Regions from separate parts of the Homo sapiens genome. Here region 1 is linked to region 2. A link means that fine-mapping ties the variant in region 2 to the expression of a gene that starts in the linked region. Tissue or cell type: whole blood. Region 2 holds a variant in brackets; the other region holds the start of a gene. All regions are shown on one strand. Distances are between the middles of the regions. Region 1 holds the start of GHRL (ghrelin and obestatin prepropeptide). Region 2 overlaps TATDN2 (TatD DNase domain containing 2).

Region 1 (4,385 bases), 35 kb after region 2:
GTCAGATGCCCTGCGGAATTGCTGGGTTGGCGAGGGAAGAAGCATGTGCTCCAGCTGTCCCTGGAACACGGTGGCGGGGTGCCCCAAGTGGGCATGGCCCTGGTGGAGGAGGGAGGGAGGAGAGTGGCTCTGGGGTCTGGGTGCAGCTTTGTTGCTGTGTGACCTTAGCTTACTCGCCCTTTCTCCCTGGGTAAAATGAGGCTGTCATCACTAGGAGAGCTCTGAGACCTCCCCAGTCCAGCGCCCCGTTGTTTCCCATGTGCTGTTGCTGCTCTGGCCTCTGTGAGCCCCGGGAGTCCGCAGGGAGCCAGGCTGGTGATTCTACACCTTCCCGAGGAGGAGTCCCACCTCCCGGTTGAGCAGACTGCTCCTGATCATCCTCTCCAGAGAGTGGGTGTGGGGATAACTTCAGCCAGTGGCTATGCTTCAGTCATTTCTGCCAGGTGTGACATGACTGCCTGGCCTGGCGTTTTTTCACATAGCAGCTTGCCTTGCCTCCCTCCAGCAGCTTTGGTCCCTATTTTAGCGGATGCCTCTTCTGAGAGGGAAGTGCATTGGACCTGGAGGTGGAAGATCTACGCTTAGCACGGGCCTGGCTCCTCTCTCATTGACTGGCCTTACGCCGACCACAAATAATTCCCCTTACCCAGAGTCTTTGAGGGTGAAATGAGGCGATGGGGGGAAAGTGGCTTCTAACCTGTGAAACACCCTGCAGATGACAATGGTTTCATACCAGGCCCATAGGACTTCCCAGCATAGGCCAAGGCCACTGCCTCATTTCCCTCGGCCCCAGGAATTTCTTCCTTTCTGGAGTGCTTCATCCAACTGGGTGCCCAGGCAGGAACCCCTAAGGGCCAATGAGTTGTCTGCAGAGAAGTTCTAGCAGTTCAGGAGAGGAGCTCACCTTAGGCTGGGGCTTGCGGCAGGGATGTTAGCAAAGGCTCCAGGAAAGAGGCCTGTGGTGAACTCGGGGCAGGGCTTTGGAGGGAGGGCTTTGCGGCAAGCAGAGGGGAGGTGAAGGCGTGGGTAGAGTACATCAGGGCAGCATGGAGAAGGCTGGGTGGCTTGGGGGAGGGTGGCGATGGGGTCATAACAAAAACATAAGAAGGTGGTTTGGGGCCAGGTGATGGATGCCTTGGGAACTGCTAGCCCAAGAAGTTTGGGCTTTTTTTGCAGGAGGGCAGCCACTGAGGATTCTTGAGGAGAGAGAGACCATAGAATGAATGAAAGAGTTGGAAAGACTTTAAAGCTCTGGGAGGCTGAATCCTTTATTTCGCTGGAAGAAAAACTGAATGCCAAGAGGGCCTCACTTTCCCCAAAGCTATACAGCCATCAGGGGCAATGCTGGGATTCCCCCATGGATCTCTTGACTCCTAATACAGTGCTCTTTCTGATATGCCATCTGGCTCCATAATGAACATTGTGTTCCAGGAAAATCAGTCTGCGCTGAACAGGATGGAATTGGGGCAGGACGTCCAGTGAGGAGGACATTGAGGCAGTAGAGCAGTTGATTGCCGAATGACCACCTACCCTGACTTAAAAGATCAACCTCAGGGAGGATTGGAGCTTTCTAGAGTCTCTTGGGACAGCAGAAGCACAGGCCGGGTTGGACTGAATCTTTAAGTGGACATGAGGGACAAAGTACCTCCTGTTGGTAAACATCTCACCACCAACCCACTGTGGTGGCTAAAATCCCACCTTTAGTCCCAGCAACATATGAGCATGTCACCAGGAGGTCTTCACAGGCCTGTCTGCCACCTGAGTGTAGACATCTTTTGGCCCTGGAGCCCAGAGAGGCTGAATGTGGAGAGGGTGGAGAGAGGTCTGTAGTCCTCAGAGAAGACTTGCAGCTTTTTCAGAGCCACCAACCCATAAAAAAAAAAATCCCCAAACAGAAAAATCCTAACTGTGGTGACCAGGTACCTCCTGAGACATGAAGCCTCCACTTACCTGGACCCTGGAGGCCTCTCCGGGCACAGCTGCCAATGTTGATCTTAGATAAGACCACCAGCAAGTAAACATCCACTGTGCAAAGCTGTGTTATCTTTGGGGAACTGAAATGTCCCCTGGGAGTTGGAAACTCCCCTAGCCACATACCACAGAGTTGAGGAAGGAAGAGCTGATGGACGGAAGAACCATGGCGGGAGGAGTCATCCGGAAGCTACCTCGCTGCCCTGTCAGTTACGGAACAGAGGAGAGATGCCGGCTGGAGGACACAGCAAATTTGAACCAAGAGGAGCTTGGAGGAAGCCCGAGCGACCTGGAGGGGACTGGCTGACCTTCCTCATTCTTTTCAAGTGTGAATAATAACCAAGCCCAGTTTGGCAACTCCTTGAGGGTGAGGACGAAGCCCCATTCTCCTTTTTGGAACTTGGTGGGGCTCAGGAAGCAGGTTCTCTCCAGTCGGTGGCTTTCCTTTCTGTTGCGGGTCTCTTGAGGGCCTGCCTTCATGAAGGCACATGAGTGACTCATCATTTGTGAATTAATTGCTATATGTGAAGGGCATCTGAGAACAAATTATCTTCATAGACTTTTCATTATAATTTTATTTGTACTGATAATTAGTTGGTTTAGCAAGCTCTTTTTTCATAGATTTGGCTAAACTTCAGTCTGAAAGAGGCAAATTCTGGGGTTCTAGAAAGAGATTTTATTCTTTGATATAGGGCTATTTGGTGGGGTTGCTTTTTGTCCTAGTTGTAGCTTTTATAATTTCGAGATTCACATTTTGCAATAGAAATATACAGGCATACCTTGGAGGCATTACAGCTTTGGTCCCAGACCACAATGAAGCAAGTCACACGAATTTTGTTGGTTTCCCAGTAAATATAAAACGTATGCTGATACCATACTATAGTCTAAGTGTGCAACAGCATATGTCTAAATGAATATACATATATATTTTTTTGAGACAGGTTCTTGCTCTGTCACCCAGGCTGGAGTGCAGTGGCACTATCATGGCTCACTGCAGCCTCCACCTCCCTGGACTAAGATGATCCTCCCACCTCAGGCTCCCAAGTAGCTGGGACTACAGGTCACACCACCACACCCAGTTAATTTTTGTATTTTTTGTAGAGACAGAGTCTTGACATGTTGCCTAGGCTGGTCTTGAACTCCTGGCTTAAGTGATCTGCCTGACTTTGCCTCCCAAAGTGCTGGGATTACAGATGTGTAGTCTTTGAAATCCAGTGTGTGTTCTTACAGTGCATTTCAATTTGGACTAGCCATGTTTCAAATGCTCAGCAGCCACATGCGGCTCATTCTAGATAGGCGGCCATCGCTCTTAAATCCTCCCTGACCTTAGCCATGCTCTCTCATCCCTCCTCTTCGCCAAGCTCTGCCTCTCTCACTGGGGCTTCCCTAGCCTCCGGCCATCTTGGGGCCAAAGCTCTAACACTTTGCCTCTCTCGTGTCTTCTGTTCCCCTCCAGTGGCTTCTGCTTTCTGCCTTAAAATACACCCAGGTTCCTAATCCTGAAAACGTCTGTTGTGCACCGATCCCACCCTCCCCTCGTGTTACCATCTCCATTTCCTTCCCCTTTCCTTGTGTCCTCTTCTTTGCTGTGTCCTGGCCCCTCAAAACTTGACCTTGCCTCTCATCCCCACTGCTGTACTGAAACTGTTGTCTCAGCGTTGCTGATCATCCAGCCTTTTAGTCTATGGACCGCTAAGAGCCATAGGACGACCTCAGGGTGGGACGTGGCTTGGAGGGCCATCTCGTCTCAATTTCCAGATACAGACCTGTGTTGGGTTGTGTTGGATTCATGAGGAAAGCTTCATAAGTTTTATGCACGTTTATAAGACTCCATCCTTGGATTCTGATCCAGTAGCTCTGGCGTGGGGGCTTTAGAATCTGTTTCAAGTATCTCAGGTAATTTTGATTATAAATTACCAAGTATCCCAGGTAAATTTTGATTATAAATGCTTGCTTCCAGCAGAAAATATAAACATATGGAAGATGAAATCTTTCTCTCTGAATAACCCAATTCAGTTTCCACTCGTGAATATCTTATATAACCGTAGTACATTTATCAAAATTAAAACACCAGTGTTAGCACATTACTGTTAATCTCCAGACTATTTGTAAGTCACCAATTTTTCCATTGTCCCATCTGTTCTTCCTTTTCTTTCTCTTGTCATAACCACTTTTAGAGGGTTTTGAATGGTATCATTTTGTCTTCACCGTCGGCTTATTAGCTATACTGTACTGTTCTATTCTTTGAGTGGTTGCTCTAGGATTTACAAATATGACTTCAACATATTGCAGAATACCTTCAACAACTACGATATCCTTTCACAGATAGTGTAAGAACTGCACCACAGAATGCTTTCATTTCCCCACTTCTATTCTTTGTGATATTATTGTCACACATTTTATTTTTACTTAAG
Region 2 (4,385 bases):
TTTTTTTTGAGACAGCGTCTCCAAAAGTTTGGAGCGTCTCCACAGGCTGGAGTGCAGTGGCACAAGCTCGGCTTACTGTGACCTTGACCTTCCACACTCAAGCAATCCTTCTGTCTCAGCTCCTGGAGTAGCTGGGACTACAGGTGTGGGTCACTGCACCCAGCTAATTTTTGTATTTTTCTTGTACAGATGGGGTCTTGCTATGTTGCCCAGACTGGTCTTGAACTCCTAGGCTCAAATGATCCTCCTGCCTTGGCCTCCCAAAGTGCTGGAATTGCAGGCATGAGCCACCACACCCAGCCTTGTTTTTTTTTTTATTGAACGCTAAACCCACAGGTCCAGAACCGTGCCTGCTGGCACAGAGTAAGTGCTTAGTAAGTGCTTGCTTAATGGTTGAAAAGTGCACTAAATTCAATATTTCTGGTTTTACTTGAAAGAAACAGAATCTCTAACTCTGATTCTCTACTCTCAAATGGCACCAGTTAGAGGTGAGGAGCAGCTGCCCGTCTGAGGGTGCAGATACTCCTCAGTTTGTTGCAGATCTCACCCTCTGTGTTGTATATGTGGCTACAGCGGGAGCAGAGGGCAGGGGTGGAGAAGCAGTCAGTGGAGATGGGGCCTTAACAGACAGGTGGGAACACAAAATGGGACGGAGGCAAGGACATGGCAAGCAGAGGAGATAAGATGTGCTAGCAAATGTGTAAGAGGGTGTGATGGGCCAAGGGTGGCAGGTGGTTGGTGGCAGGCAGAAGAGGGCACTAGAGAAGTGGGCTGGGAAGTTGGGGCTGTGTCTCACAGGGCAGGCCCTGGGAGTCATCAAATTTATTATTAGTATTAGAGGCCAGGCACGGTGGCTCATGCCTGTAATCCCAGCACTTTGGGAGGCCAAGGCGGGCAGATCACTTGAGGTTAGGCCAACATGGTGAAACCCCATCTCTACTAAAAATACCAAAAAAAAATTAGCCAGGTGTGGTGGCAGATGCCTGTAATCCCAGCTACTTGGGAGGGAGGCTAAAGCACAAGAATTGCTTGAACCTCAGAGGCGGAGGTTGCAGCGAGCTGAGGTTACACCCCGCACTCCAGCCTGGACAACAGAGTGAGATTTTGCCTCAAAAAAAAATTATATATATATATATATATGAATTCCTTAAATATAAAAAGATACAAAGAAAACAGGCTGAGCGCGGTGGCTCACACCTGTAATCCCAGCACTTTGGGAGGCCGAGGTGGGTGGATCACCAGAGGTCAGGAGTTCAAGACCAGCCTGGCCAACATGGCGAAACCCCGTCTACTAAAAATACAAAAATTAGCCAGGTGTGATTGCACATGCCTGTAATCCCAGGTACTTGGGAGGCTGAGGCAGGAGAATCTGTTGAACCTGGGGGACGGAGGTTGCAGTGAGCTGAGATCGCACCACTGTCTCCAAAAAAAAAAAAAACAAAAAAAAAAAACAAAAATGACCCGTAACCTCCTTTAACAAATAATCTCTGTAGACACGTTAGAAAATACAGAAAGTAAGAAAATTTACTAAGTCCACAGAGGTTCAAAATGATAGCAAACACCACCTTTCCTATTCATCTTCGTGAAGTTAGCAGCTGCCAACAGTTTGAGTACTTTCAGGAAAATAGATGTCTATATTAACAAGTATAGATTTCTAAAGGTTTATGATTTTTTTTTTTTTTTTTTTTTTTTTTTTTTTTTTTGGGAGATGGAGTCTTACTCTGTAGCCCAGGCTGGAGTGCAGTGGCACGATCTTGGCTCACTGCAAGCTCCGCCTCCCGGGTTCACGCCATTCTCCTGCCTCACCCTCCCGAGTAGCTGGGACTACAGGCGCCCGCCACCACGCACGGCTAATTTTTTGTATTTTTAGTAGAGACGGGGTTTCACTGTGTTAGCCAGGATGGTCTCGATGGGCCCGCCTCGGCCTCCCAAAGTGCTGGGATTACAGACATTAGCCACCGCGCCCAGCTAGGTTTATGATT[G/C]TTTTAAGTTTTATTTTCCTTTGGCCCTTGATTCAGGATAATGATTAAAAAAAAATATGATGTGCTCTTCGGAAAAAAATTTCAAATGATACAAGAAGCTTATAATATAAGCACCTAAGCCTTTGTTTGTTTGTTTGTTTGAGACAGAGTCTCATTCTCTCACCCAGGCTGGAGTGCAGTGGCATGATCTCGGCTTACTGCATCCTCCGCCTCCTGGGTTCAAGTGATTCTCCTGCCTCAGCCTCTTGAGTAGCTGGGACTATAGGCATGTGCCACCACGCCTGGCTAATTTTTGTAATTTTATTTTTATTTTGCTTCTTTTTTTTTTTTTTGAGACAGAGTTTTGCTCTTGTTGCCTGGGCTGGAGGGCAGTGGCACGATCTTGCCTCACTGCAACCTCTGCCTTCCGATTCAAGCGATTCTTTGCCTCAGCCTCCTGAGTAAGTGGGATTACAGGTGCCCGCCACCATGCCTGGCTTAAGTTTTGTATTTTCAGTAGACACAGTGTTTTGCCATGTTGGCCAGGCTGGTCTCGAACTCCTGATGTCAGGTGATCCACTTGCCTCGGCCTCCCAAAGTGCTGGGATTACAGGTGTGAGGCACTGCTCCCAGCCGAGCCTAAGTCTCTTTCTACTTCCCTGCATTCCCCAAAGAGATCCATTATAAACAGTTTAGCTTTTTAGACTTGTTTGCGAATATATACATATAAAGCAATTTTGCCTTTTTTTTTTTGAGATAGGGTCTCACTGTATTGCCTAGGCTGGAGTGCAGTGGTGCCGTCACGGCTCACTGAAACCTCTGCCTCCCAGGTTCAAGCGATTCTTGTGCCTTAGCCTCCCGTGTAGCTGGGATCACAGGCGTGTGCCACCATGGCCCAGCTAATTTTTGTAATTTTTAGTAGAGACAGAGTTTTGACACCTTGCCCAAGCTGGTCTTGAACTCCTGAGCCTAAGTGATCTTCCTGTCTTGGCCTCCCAAAGTGTTGGGATTACAGGCATGAGCCACCGCGCCCCGTGTGTTTTATAGAGATGGGGTTTCGCCATGTTGGCCAGGCTTGTCTCGACCTCCTGGGTTCAAGCAGTCCACCTGCCTCGGCTTCCCAAAGTGCTGGATTACAGGCATGAGCCACTGTACCTGGTCTGTATTTACTTTTGAGAGGAATTTAATAGAAATGACTTAGGAATGCAAATGGGATAATGGTTTACTGCTTATGGAATGGCCTTAGGAGGACATTTGTGGAGAGTTCTTACACCCGGCAGGGATTAGACTGGATTAGAATTTCACATCAAAATAGTCTGGCAAACAAAGTCTAGCTTTTTCTGTGTGGAGTCCTGGAGTGAGTGGGTGCAAGAGGGGGCTGAGGCTTCACTTCCGTCTTGGAGGAGGTTTGTTGTTGGGAGCAGTCTATCTTGACTGACCCTGGTGCAGTCACTGAGAAACTGAGGTATTTTCCAAAACCAAGTTGATTATTTGAGGGGAAGTGTTTGCAGAGAACTTTCAGGAGGCTTTGGGTATGGTGGGAAAAACACTGCACTCAGAACTGGGGGATTGGAGTTCCTGGGGCTAGCCCTTCCCCTCACTGGGTCCTCAGGTTTCCTTTACCCTTAGATATGGGATTGGGCTAGCTGGTTTCTAGGGCCCTTTCCAGTGGGAAGAGCTTGAGCTGCTGTTTTGCCTGAAGTGTAGTCCTTGCCTTCCAGGAGCTTGCAGTCTGGTTTAATGAGAGTGTTCATTTCAGCTCCTTCCGTCCCCTTGCAGTGAAAGGATATCATCTGCTGAGCATGAGAAGGCGAATGCTAAGAAATGGCAGCAATCAGCCCCTCTTACAGTGCCACTTCACCACCCGGAGAGAACCTTTGCCTTAGCCACAGTCACTTTCCCTTTGACTGGTAGAACCACCACTGATTTATAATTTGCCAAATGCTTCATGTACGAAAGTGCCCTTGGAACAGCCCTTTCAATTCTGTTTTTTTTTTCCCAGGTTGATTCCAAAGATAGTTCTCATAACTCCACAAACTCTGAATTTGCAGCTGAAGCTGAGGGTCAGAATGATACAATTGAGGAACCCAACAAGGTCCAGAAAAGGAAGAGGGATAGACTTCGAGACCAGGGCTCCACAATGATCTACCTGAAGGCTATCCAGGGCATCCTGGGGAAATCGATGCCAAAAAGGAAGGGAGAGGCTGCCACTCGGGCAAAACCAAGCGCAGCAGAGCATCCCAGCCATGGAGAAGGACCAGCCAGGAGTGAAGGACCAGCCAAGACTGCAGAAGGAGCAGCCAGGAGTGTCACAGTCACTGCTGCTCAGAAGGAGAAAGACGCAACCCCAGAGGTCAGCATGGAGGAGGATAAGACAGTGCCAGAGAGGAGCAGCTTCTATGACAGGAGAGTAGTTATAGACCC

Evidence for each region. PIP is the estimated chance that this variant, and not a neighbour inherited with it, causes the effect. A credible set is the group of variants that fine-mapping cannot tell apart.
Region 1: it holds the start of GHRL, and the variant in region 2 is the best candidate, but not a certain one, in a credible set for the expression of GHRL in whole blood (TOPMed, PIP 0.67).

The regions. Positions count from the first base shown.
Region 1 is chr3:10,290,892-10,295,276 of GRCh38, forward strand. It overlaps GHRL (ghrelin and obestatin prepropeptide), which reads right to left and starts at 2,056. Exons shown (of 6, transcript NM_016362.5): 1 at 1,951-2,056; 2 at 1-560. GHRLOS (ghrelin opposite strand/antisense RNA) reads left to right here. Exons shown (of 6, transcript NR_073568.1): 6 at 1,177-2,558. RefSeq lists enhancers at 1-302, 1,814-1,883, 1,894-2,143, 1,954-2,248.
Region 2 is chr3:10,256,174-10,260,558 of GRCh38, forward strand. TATDN2 (TatD DNase domain containing 2) reads left to right here. Exons shown (of 8, transcript NM_014760.4): 3 at 3,964-4,385. Among named protein-coding and RNA genes, the nearest start is that of TATDN2, 9.9 kb to the left of the region's middle. The variant G/C (reference allele first, on the strand shown) is at 1,983.